2 separate regions of the Homo sapiens genome follow, and region 1 is linked to region 2. The links come from fine-mapping of genetic effects on gene expression. A gene starts in region 2. The other region holds a variant in brackets. All regions are shown on one strand. Distances are between the middles of the regions. Region 1 has its middle 46 kb from the start of NAF1. Region 2 holds the start of NAF1 (nuclear assembly factor 1 ribonucleoprotein).

What was found. PIP is the estimated chance that this variant, and not a neighbour inherited with it, causes the effect.
Region 1: its variant is the best candidate, but not a certain one, in a credible set for the expression of NAF1 in tibial nerve (GTEx, PIP 0.63).

The regions. Positions count from the first base shown.
Region 1 is chr4:163,209,830-163,215,213 of GRCh38, reverse strand. No RefSeq gene overlaps it. Among named protein-coding and RNA genes, the nearest start is that of NAF1, 46 kb to the right of the region's middle. The variant T/C (reference allele first, on the strand shown) is at 2,551.
Region 2 is chr4:163,164,679-163,170,062 of GRCh38, reverse strand. NAF1 (nuclear assembly factor 1 ribonucleoprotein) reads left to right here and starts at 3,173. Exons shown (of 8, transcript NM_138386.3): 1 at 3,173-3,700. The coding sequence starts at 3,336. RefSeq lists enhancers at 3,220-3,419, 3,440-3,559, 3,590-3,669, 3,161-4,028.

The DNA of each region.
Region 1 (5,384 bases), 45 kb before region 2:
CCCAAGGATGACATTTTTGCAGCATGAGCTGAAAGCACAGAAGAGAATTACCGTTGATTTAAAAGCATTTTCTAGTTAGACACTGAGATCAATTAGACTAAATATTTATTCCTTAACCTCCTACTTCCCTGCCCCTTGATGTTAGCATTCTCCAGGTGACTGATTTGGGTCCTTGGAATGTGGGTGAAAGTGACCGTGAATATGTTTTATTCCAGATCTTAAGATCTTAAATGTCATTGTCTATTTCCACTTATTCCTCTGGAAGTTTTGGATCTCTTCCAAAGTAGCCACTACTCCTAGTTTCTAAGTTCCAGAATGAACATTCATGGAGTGGAGCCACCTCAGAAGTAGAGCCATAGAAGCTGACCCACATGGTCTTAGTGTGAGAATAAATACTTATATTTAATATGGTGATTGTAAGGTTGTTTCATGTGCAGCCAAAACTGACTAATACCAATACCTGGTGACTGTAGGAACTAATGAGAATGCGCAGTGTTCAATCCTCACACCCATGATCCTTGAACACTTCTTCAGCTATAACTTCCCCTCCAATACTAGGATTAAATAGACACTAACTTATTCTTAAGATTTATTTTTCTCCTTAACAGCTGCACCCCTTTGGTTCTCCAATTCTGGTTTCCTTAGACCCTTAACTTTTCACTTTACATGCTGCCTCTTTCAAGCTATGTTTTACATTTGCTAAAGTTATATACTTCTGAGAATATGTGTATTTTAGTGAAGGGATCCTGCTAAGATAACTTAAATCATGTATATTTAGAGCAACTGACTGACCTAAATGAGAGAAAAAGGAATTCAGAATAAACAAAATGAATACTTAACAAATAGCAAAATGATAGATTTAAATCCAAACATATCAGTTATTAAATAAACATGAACCAACTTCTCAACAACAAAGACAACTGTATACTGCTTATAAGAGAGTCATATAAAATATAATACTCAAAATATAAGGAAAAAAGGATCGAAAAGATATACCATGTAAACATTACCTAAAAGAAAGTTTGTGTAGCTATATTAAAATCAGACTAGTAGGGACTAGGCACAGGGACTCAGACTTGTAATCCCAGCACTTTGAGAGGCTGAGGCAGGAGGATCATTTGAGGCAAGGACTTCAAGACCAGCCTGGGCAACATAGTGAGATCCTTTCTCCACAACACTAAAAAATTAGCTGCATGTGATGGTGCACACCTGTAGTCCCAGCTACTCAGGAGGCTGAGGTGGAAGGATCCCTTGAGCTCTGGAGATGGAGGCTGCAGTGAGCTGTTATCATGTCACTGCACTCCAACGTGGTTGACAGAGCAAGACTCCATCTCCAAACAAAACAAACAAAAAATCAAACTAGTAGACTTTTAGCTAAAAACCCACAAAAAAAATAGTTCAAATAAAAATACATATGTGTGTATATATATATAGAGAGAAATATATGTAAATATATCATCTCTGTATAATATATATGTATGTATCATATATAAATGTATACATGTGTATATATATCTTTATGTATGTATATTATGGGTATTATATGGATATAATATACATTATATAGATATCTATCTATACATATATACACATGTGTACTTATATAGATATATACCTATATATACACATATAGATATCTATCCATACATATATATGCATATATACACAGATATATGTAGAGATAGATATGTATCTATATATCTATGTGTATTATATATAATACATATATATGTATTATATATAGATCACACATATTTATCAATAACTTTTATAAATCTAGAGTAATATAATGTGGTGTTGGTATAACAATATACATATGGAAATGGAACTGAATAACAACTACAAAATAAGATCCACACAAATACGAATACCTCACTTATTATTTGAGTGGCACTCTTGAGGAAGAGAATCAAATAGGGATTTTGACCGATTATACAAAAGAAATCAGGCTGGGTGTGGTGGCGCACGCCTGTAATCCCAGCACCTTGGGAGGCCGAGGCAGGTGGATCACAAGGTCAGGAGTTTGAGACCAGTCTGGCCACCACAGTGAAACCCTGTCTCCACTAAAAAATATAAAAAATTAGCCGGGTGTGGTGGTGTGCACCTGTAACCCCAGCTACTCAGGAGGCTGAGGCAGGAGAATCACATGAACCCGGGAGGTGGAGGTTGCAGTGAGTTGAGGTTGCGCCATTGCACTCCATCCCAGGCGACAGTGTGAGACGCTGACCCCCCCAAAAAAAAAGTGGGGGGAGGAACCAAGATGGCGGAATAGGAACAGCTCCTATCTACAGCTCCCAGCATGAGCGACACAGAATACAGGTGATTTCTGCATTTCCATCTGAGGTACCGGGTTCATCTCACTAGGGAGTGCCAGACAGTGGGCGCAGGTCAGTGGGTGCGCGCACCGTGCGCGAGCCGAAGCAGGGTGAGGCATTGCCTCACTCGGGAAGGGCAAGGGGTCAGGGAGTTCCCTTTCCTAGTCAAAGAAAGGGGTGATGGACAGCACCTGGAAAATCGGGTCACTCCCGCCCGAATACTGCGCTTTTCCAA[T/C]GGGCTTAAAAAACGGCGCACGACGAGATTATATCCCGCACCTGGCTCGGAGGGTCCTGCGCCCACGGAGTCTTGCTGATTGCTAGCACAGCAGTCTGAGATCAAACTGCAAGGCGGCAGTGAGGCTGGGGGAGGGGCGCCCGCCATTGCCCAGGCTTGCTTAGGTAAACAAAGCAGCCAGGAAGCTGGAACTGGGTGGAGCCCACCACAGCTCAAGGAGGCCTGCCTGCCTCTGTAGGCTCCACCTCTGGGGGCAGGGCACAGACAAACAAAAAGAAAGCAGTAACCTCTGCAGACTTAAATGTCCCTGTCTGACAGCTTTGAAGAGAGCAGTGGTTCTCCCAGTACGCAGCTGGAGATCTGAGAACGGGCAGACTGCCTCCTCAAGTGGGTCCCTGACCCCTGACCCCCGAGCAGCCTAACTGGGAGGCACCCCCCAGCAGGGGCACACTGACACCTCACACGGCAGGGTACTCCAACAGACCTGCAGCTGAGGGTCCTGTCTGTTAGAAGGAAAACTAACAAACAGAAAGGACATCCACACCAAAAACCCATCTGTACATCACCATCATCAAAGACCAAAAGTAGATAAAACCACAAAGATGGGGAAAAAACAGAACAGAAAAACTGGAAACTCTAAAAAGCAGAGCGCCTCTCCTCCTCCAAAGGAACGCAGTTCCTCACCAGCAATGGAACAAAGCTGGACGGATGGAGAACGACTTTGACGAGCTGAGAGAAGAAGGCTTCAGACGATCAAATTACTCTGAGCTACGGGAGGACATTCAAACCAAAGGCAAAGAAGTTGAAAACTTTGAAAAAAATTTAGAAGAATGTATAACTAGAATAACCAATACAGAGAAGTGCTTAAAGGAGCTGATGGAGCTGAAAACCAAGGCTCGAGAACTACGAGAAGAATGCAGAAGCCTCAGGAGCCGATGCGATCAACTGGAAGAAAGGGTATCAGCAATGGAAGATGAAATGAATGAAATGAAGCGAGAAGGGAAGTTTAGAGAAAAAAGAATAAAAAGAAATGAGCAAAGCCTCCAAGAAATATGGGACTATGTGAAAAGACCAAATCTACGTCTGATTGGTGTACCTGAAAGTGACAGGGAGAATGGAACCAAGTTGGAAAACACTCTGCAGGATATTATCCAGGAGAACTTCCCCAATCTAGCAAGGCAGGCCAATGTTCAGATTCAGGAAATACGGAGAACGCCACAAAGATACTCCTCGAGAAGAGCAACTCCAAGACACATAATTGTCAGATTCACCAAAGTTGAAATGGAGGAAAAAATGTTAAGGGCAGCCAGAGAGAAAGGTCGGGTTACCCTCAAAGGGAAGCCCATCAGACTAACAGCAGATATCTCAGCAGAAACCCTACAAGCCAGAAGAGAGTGGGGGCCAATATTCAACATTCTTAAAGAAAAGAATTTTCAACCCAGAATTTCATATCCAGCCAAACTAAGCTTCATAAGTGAAGGAGAACTAAAATACTTTACAGACAAGCAAATGCTGAGCGATTTTGTCACCACCAGGCCTGCCCTAAAAGAACTCCTGAAGGAAGTGCTAAACATGGAAAGGAACAACCGGTACCAGCCGCTGCAAAATCATGCCAAAATGTAAAGACCATCGAGACTAGGAAGAAACTGCATCAACTAACGAGCAAAATAACCAGCTAACATCATCATGACAGGATCAGATTCACACATAACAATATTAACTTTAAATGTAAATGGACTAAATGCTCCAATTAAAAGACACAGACTGGCAAATTGGATAAAGAGTCAAGACCCATCAGTGTGCTGTATTCAGGAAACCCATCTCACGTGCAGAGACACACATAGGCTCAAAATAAAAGGATGGAGGAAGATCTACCAAGCAAATGGAAAACAAAAAAGGCAGGGGTTGCAATCCTAGTCTCTGATAAAACAGACTTTAAACCAACAAAGATCAAAAGAGACAAAGAAGGCCATTACATAATGGTAAAGGGATCAATTCAACAAGAAGAGCTAACTATCCTAAATATATATGCACCCAATACAGGAGCACCCAGATTCATAAAGCAAGTCCTGAGTGACCTACAAAGAGACTTAGACTCCCACACATTAATAATGGGAGACTTTAACACCCCACTGTCAACATTAGACAGATCGACAAGACAGAAAGTCAACAAGGATACCCAGGAATTGAACTCAGCTCTGCACCAAGTGGACCTAATAGACATCTACAGAACTCTCCACCCCAAATCAACAGAATAATCATTCTTCTCAGCACCACGTCGCACTTATTCCAAAATTGACCACATATTGGAAGTAAAGCTCTCCTCAGCAAATGTAAAAGAACAGAAATTATAACAAACTATCTCTCAGACCACAGTGCAATCAAACTAGAACTCAGGATTAAGAATCTCACTCAAAACCACTCAACTACATGGAAACTGAACAACCTGCTCCTGAATGACTACTGGGTACATAACGAAATGAAGGCAGAAATAAAGATGTTCTCTGAAACCAACGAGAACAAAGACACAACATACCAGAATCTCTGGGATGCATTCAAAGCAGTGTGTAGAGGGAAATTTATAGCACTAAATGCCCACAAGAGAAAGCAGGAAAGATCCAGAATTGACACCCTAACATCACAATTAAAAGAACTAGAGAAGCAAGAGCAAACACATTCAAAAGCTAGCAGAAGGCAAGAAATAACTAAAATCAGAGCAGAACTGAAGGAAATAGAGACACAAAAAACCCTTCAAAAAATTAATGAATCCAGGAGCTGGTTTTTTGAAAGGATCAACAAAATAGATAGACCACTAGCAAGACTAATAAAGAAAA
Region 2 (5,384 bases):
TTATTATCCCCTGTGAAGGTCTCCTGTTTTCTCAGATTAACAAATTCATGGTTCTCTTTAAAAGTCCAGCTCAAGTATCACACGCATTGTAAAGCCTTTTGTCATTGTCAGTGAGGCAGTGGTTGGGTGGTCCTGTTTAACCAGCTTTCCTAGAGGTGACTTCTCCCATTCAGTTCTATTCAAGTCAAAGATGAGTCTTAGAGACTGTCTCATGCTTTAGTAGTTTATTCTGGCATCGCTCTTAAAAGATAGTGGGAAGAGGCTGGGGGTATAGACCAGATAGTCAGGGCTCGGATGATCAAGAGAGCCTCCAACCAGAGACTGTTCTCAGTGTTGGGGGTTTCTTCCCCCTTTTTAAAACCTGTATTCAGCTTGGTCAGTTATCAGATGTTTCTCTCATAAATGGAGTCGAAGCTATTCTTACAAGGGTAAGCTTTAAGGTTCATGAAAGTTGCATCTGTGCTGAAGTGGCCTGGTCTCCTGGAAATCACTGGGCCAGGGGTGGAAATCTCCAGGGCCAGTTAGTATTATATTGATAAATACATTTAGTGTCAGCCCCTCAAGACACTTGAGTGAGCCTTATGGCTATAATTACTCTTATAGCCACGATATATCTCTTATAGTACATTTTCCTTAATTTTCCAAGTATCTTCTCTGTCTTTAGTTTTCCCATTTCATACATTCTTGCATTTACATGGTACATTTCTCTACTATAGTACCTTCTGCTTGTTTTCAACTTGTCTGTTCTACTGAACTGTTAACTCCATAAGGGTAGGGACTGTGTTTATCTTCCTGTATGCATAGTTTATAATGCAGTGCACAGCATATCGTAATGTTAAGAAAATGATTACTGAATGAACAAATGAGTATTTCAATTATCCCATAACTTAGGCTTCTGGTCTTAACCTTTCTGTCAAATTCCAGTTTCTTATTTTTAAATGCCTATTTACATTTTTAATTGTCTAGTTTTTCTTCAGACTCAACTTCACATACCCACATCTCTTTCCAACTTCTCCGTTTAATTAATTAATTAATTAATTTGAGAGGGAGTTTCCCTCTTGTTGCCTAGGCTGGAGTGCAATGGTGCAATCTTGGCTCACTGCAGCCTTTGCCTCCTGAGTTCAAGCGATTCTCCTGCCTCAGCCTCCCAAGTAGCTGGGATTACAGGTGCCCACCACCATGCCCAGCTAAGTTTTTGTATTTTTAGAAGAGATGGGTTTTCGTCATGTTGGCCAGGCTGGTCTCAAACTCCCGGCCTCAGGTGATCTGCCTACCTCAGCCTCCCAAAATGCTGGAATTACAGGCGTGAGGCCCTGCGACTGGCCAACTTCTCCGTTTTTATTGGTAATACCAACTTCTTTCTAATTTCCTTGACCAGAAATTTTAGAGTACTTTTATTCTTCCCCTGATGCTGGGGATGTCCTTTACTCTATTTCATTGACTGTAAGCCTAGTTCAGACTTTTATCACCTAATTCCTGGAAAAATGCAACAAAGTGGCTGGCTGGGGAATAATTCTGGCTCAAACGTCTTCCCTTCTCAAATCTGTACTGCATGTCTTTGCAAGATCATTGTTAATTAAATATTTTATTCGTGAGTTCATGCATTGTTCCATTTTCCAAGTATTTTTGCACACTGAATGTATGACATGCCACTCCCTTATATAAAGCCTTACTTAGTGCTCACATGAACTAAATGAGATAGTATTTTTATCTCCATTTTACAGATAAGGAAATTAGGATTTAGATTAACTGCCCAAAGTCAGTAACACCAAACACAAAATGGTAGAGCTGAGGCCTGAACACAGGTCTTTTTAGTTGAAAACTCTGAGCTCTGCTTAATCATTGTGCTAGTAAGTTCGTATCCCAAGTTTAAAGTCCTTCTTCACTTTGGAGGATTTCCATGAAATAGCCTACCAATCCTACTTCCCATTTCTGCTGCACTTGGATTTTCTATTTCATATTTCAAATATTTTTCTAGTTATCTCCTGTGCATTGCCCTTCTCTACTTCAAGTAGATTGTAAGCTTCTTAAAACCTTACTCTTATTACACTTGCCTTGCATTTCTATGAAGATCTACTGTTGTAGATGACACACTAAATTCTCAGTGAATAATTTATAAAATCTTTAGCACAGTCCTTGGCACATATGCATGTTTAACAAATGGTATCAATGATTATTATTACTACACAGGGACTGATGCCTCAAACTGAAGACCTAATAGGAAACCAGAAAATTCTGATCTCTTCCTCAGTCCTAAGAACTCTGCTTGCTTTCTCCACAATTTAGACTAGTGGTTTCCAACAATAAGTGAGTACATTTCAGTCTCATAGTCTCATCTCTCTACTACGAAACAGTGCTAAGTATGATATAGACATCACCATAACATGAACAACACAGCAAAATTTTGTCCATTACTGCTCTCTTTGAGGGTACTTTGGAGAAAGGAAAATGGAATAGTTGTAGTTACATTTTTGAAAAAATGGTTAATACCCTATCTATCGACAGATGGATCTATTGATGGATAAACTTCATTTAACTTTCATGAAGTTACTAGCGTCTTGTCAAGACTTCCTGGCTCAAGTTTCTGATGTACAGAACTTAGCATTCTTCAGGCACCCCCCTGTTGTATAATCCCTGCTTCATTTTGGCGCTTCAAGCAGAATTGGTTCACATGCAGCAATAGGAAAATCCGACATTCAGGCCTTGAATGGTTCACATGACGCAGTGAAAACGGTCGATTTAGGGCCTCCCTAGTCCTGATTATTTTTTTTTGAGACGGAGTCTCGCTTTCTCGCCAGGCTGGAGTGCAGTGGCGCGGTCTCGGCTCACTCCAACTTCCGCCTGCTGGGTTCAAGCGATTCTCCTGCCTCAGCCTCCCAAGTAGTGGGAATTACAGGCACGCGCCACCATGCCCAGCTAATTTTTGTATTTTTAGTAGAGATGGGGTTTCACCATGTTGGGCAGGCTGGTCTGTGAACTCCTGACCTTGTGATCCGCCCACCTCGGTCTCCCAAAGTGCTGGGATTACGAGCGTGAGCCACGGCGCCCGACCCCCTAATCCTGATTTTCGAAGATATGACGCATGTATCCTGCCCCCGCGAGCGCCGTCGCGCCGTCGCGCCACATACGTCACACGCTCTTCGGAAAGCGTTGCTGCGTAAATGGCGGGGGCGTGTCTTTTGGCTCCTCCGCGTGTAGTTACCTGAGAAACGCGGGAAGTTGGGCCCAGGCAGTGTTGCTGCGGTTGCCTAAGTTGTTTTTCTATTTCTGGAGAGAGCCGTGAGCTTGTCCAGGGGCCCCAATCCTGAGGCCGACCCGGTTTCTGGCGCGGTGCGATGGAGGTAGTGGAGGCCGCCGCCGCTCAGCTGGAAACTCTGAAATTCAATGGCACCGACTTTGGAGTTGGGGAAGGTCCGGCGGCTCCGTCTCCGGGCTCTGCCCCTGTGCCAGGGACACAGCCGCCGCTACAGTCGTTTGAGGGGTCCCCGGACGCTGGGCAGACCGTGGAGGTTAAGCCTGCCGGGGAGCAGCCTCTGCAGCCCGTTCTGAACGCCGTCGCGGCCGGGACCCCGGCGCCGCAGCCACAGCCACCGGCTGAATCGCCGGCCTGCGGAGACTGCGTCACCTCCCCAGGAGCCGCAGAGCCTGCGCGGGCGCCGGACTCCTTGGAGACCTCGGACTCGGATTCGGACTCGGACAGGTCGGGTGCCTAAGGGACCCGGAGCTGTGGGGAGAGGTCTTGTATGACGGGCGGGGGTGGCTGGGGCCTAGGAGCCTAGAGGTTGCTTGTGTGGGCCCTGGAGGGTGGGCAGGTCGTTGGTGCTCCGGGCTCACGTGTTGAAGTATTGGCTCCGACTGCCCCTTATTCGCTGCCTCTCAAAGCAGGTCGCGTTGTGAATCTGAGCTTAGTACTGACTTATTTCCTAAATTTGGTGGCCTGAAGGGTTCTATGTATAGATCGTATCATTTTTTGTTAGACTTTAGAAAACCCGAGGATCTTAGGTTATTTCCGTAACTACTCAGTTTAGGCTGTACTTTTGTGGTTATAGTTGAGTTTTGTGTCAGATCTGATTTTTTTTTATCATCACATCTAGGCTTTGTTTTTTGAACCACATACATTGGGGATCAGGAAAAGTATTATTTTTTGTGTTTCAAAGCTGGCTCTTGATGATTACGTTAATTTATAGAATCCTTGCAGGGAACACGTGTTTATGAAAGTAGCCAAACAGTGTTATTTAGTAGTATCTTATGCTTCTTACGTTTTGTGAGAGCCTTTCCCCCTTGCCCCCACACCTGTCTTTTAAATATGAAATCTCTGGGCTGGAGAGGACTCCAGCATGTGGGATGTTACTAAACCACACTGAACATTGTCTACAAATAGTTGAGTGTGTTGAGTGGGGTACTGAACAGGTTAACAAGATAGACACGTGTTGAGGAGGTGAGAAGTTTAGTTTTCAGGGAAGTCATCAGCGGAGAGTGGAAGTGAAGAAGGCTGAAGGATTTGAGTAGAAGGAGAGGGTATGAAATGTACTGGGAGGGGGAAGTAACAACTGTAAACAAGGTTGGATTTCTTGGCAGTACTAAGATTGCAGTATAATCATCTTGTGGGATTTCAGAGCTCATTTTACTAGCAAAGAAAAGTAAATGGTAGATGATTTGGGGATACGTTTTGAAAGCAGAAGGGATATGGCGTCATAATAGGCCAACTTAGTGTCAGGATACTACTTCTGACTCTGTGGGTGATGGCAGAGGATACCAAATATTTGAAGAAGTCAAAAGGGGTACAACTTTTTGCCAGTTAACAGCAGTGAAATCAAATGGAAACTGAAGAAGCAGGTTTAGTTAGTATAATGCACTTTTTCTTGTTTTAACTTGCTATGAGTGTGGGTGTATAGGCCATTCGTACAAAGGTGGCCAGTATGCCGTCAGAGATTGGACATGGAGTTTAGAGATGTCATAGCTGAAGATTTAGGCGTTAATTCACATGGATGATGACTGAAATCATTAATGTGTATGGGATTATCCATGAAAGTAGTAGCGAAAGAAGAGAAAGTGAGGATGGAACCCTTAAAAATAGTATATAAAAGGGCTTCAAGTGGGGAGCCAACAAACAAAATTTAAACTGAGACAGTGGTTGCTGTTAACGATAATTTCTGTGGAAGATAAGGACCAAGTGAGTTTTCAGAAAGTAGAATGGTCTACATACTTTCGTAACTGAGGATTTCCCAAGTTGTCTGTAGCCTGAGAAGAAACTCATTAAGCAATCTGGCAATTAAGCGATCTGGTGGTTGTGACTAAGAGAGGTGCCATGCCCAGAATTCCCTTTTTTTAGTGGTTTGTCACATGCTTGCTTATATTCAGACAGGTGTATGATATGTGAGAGT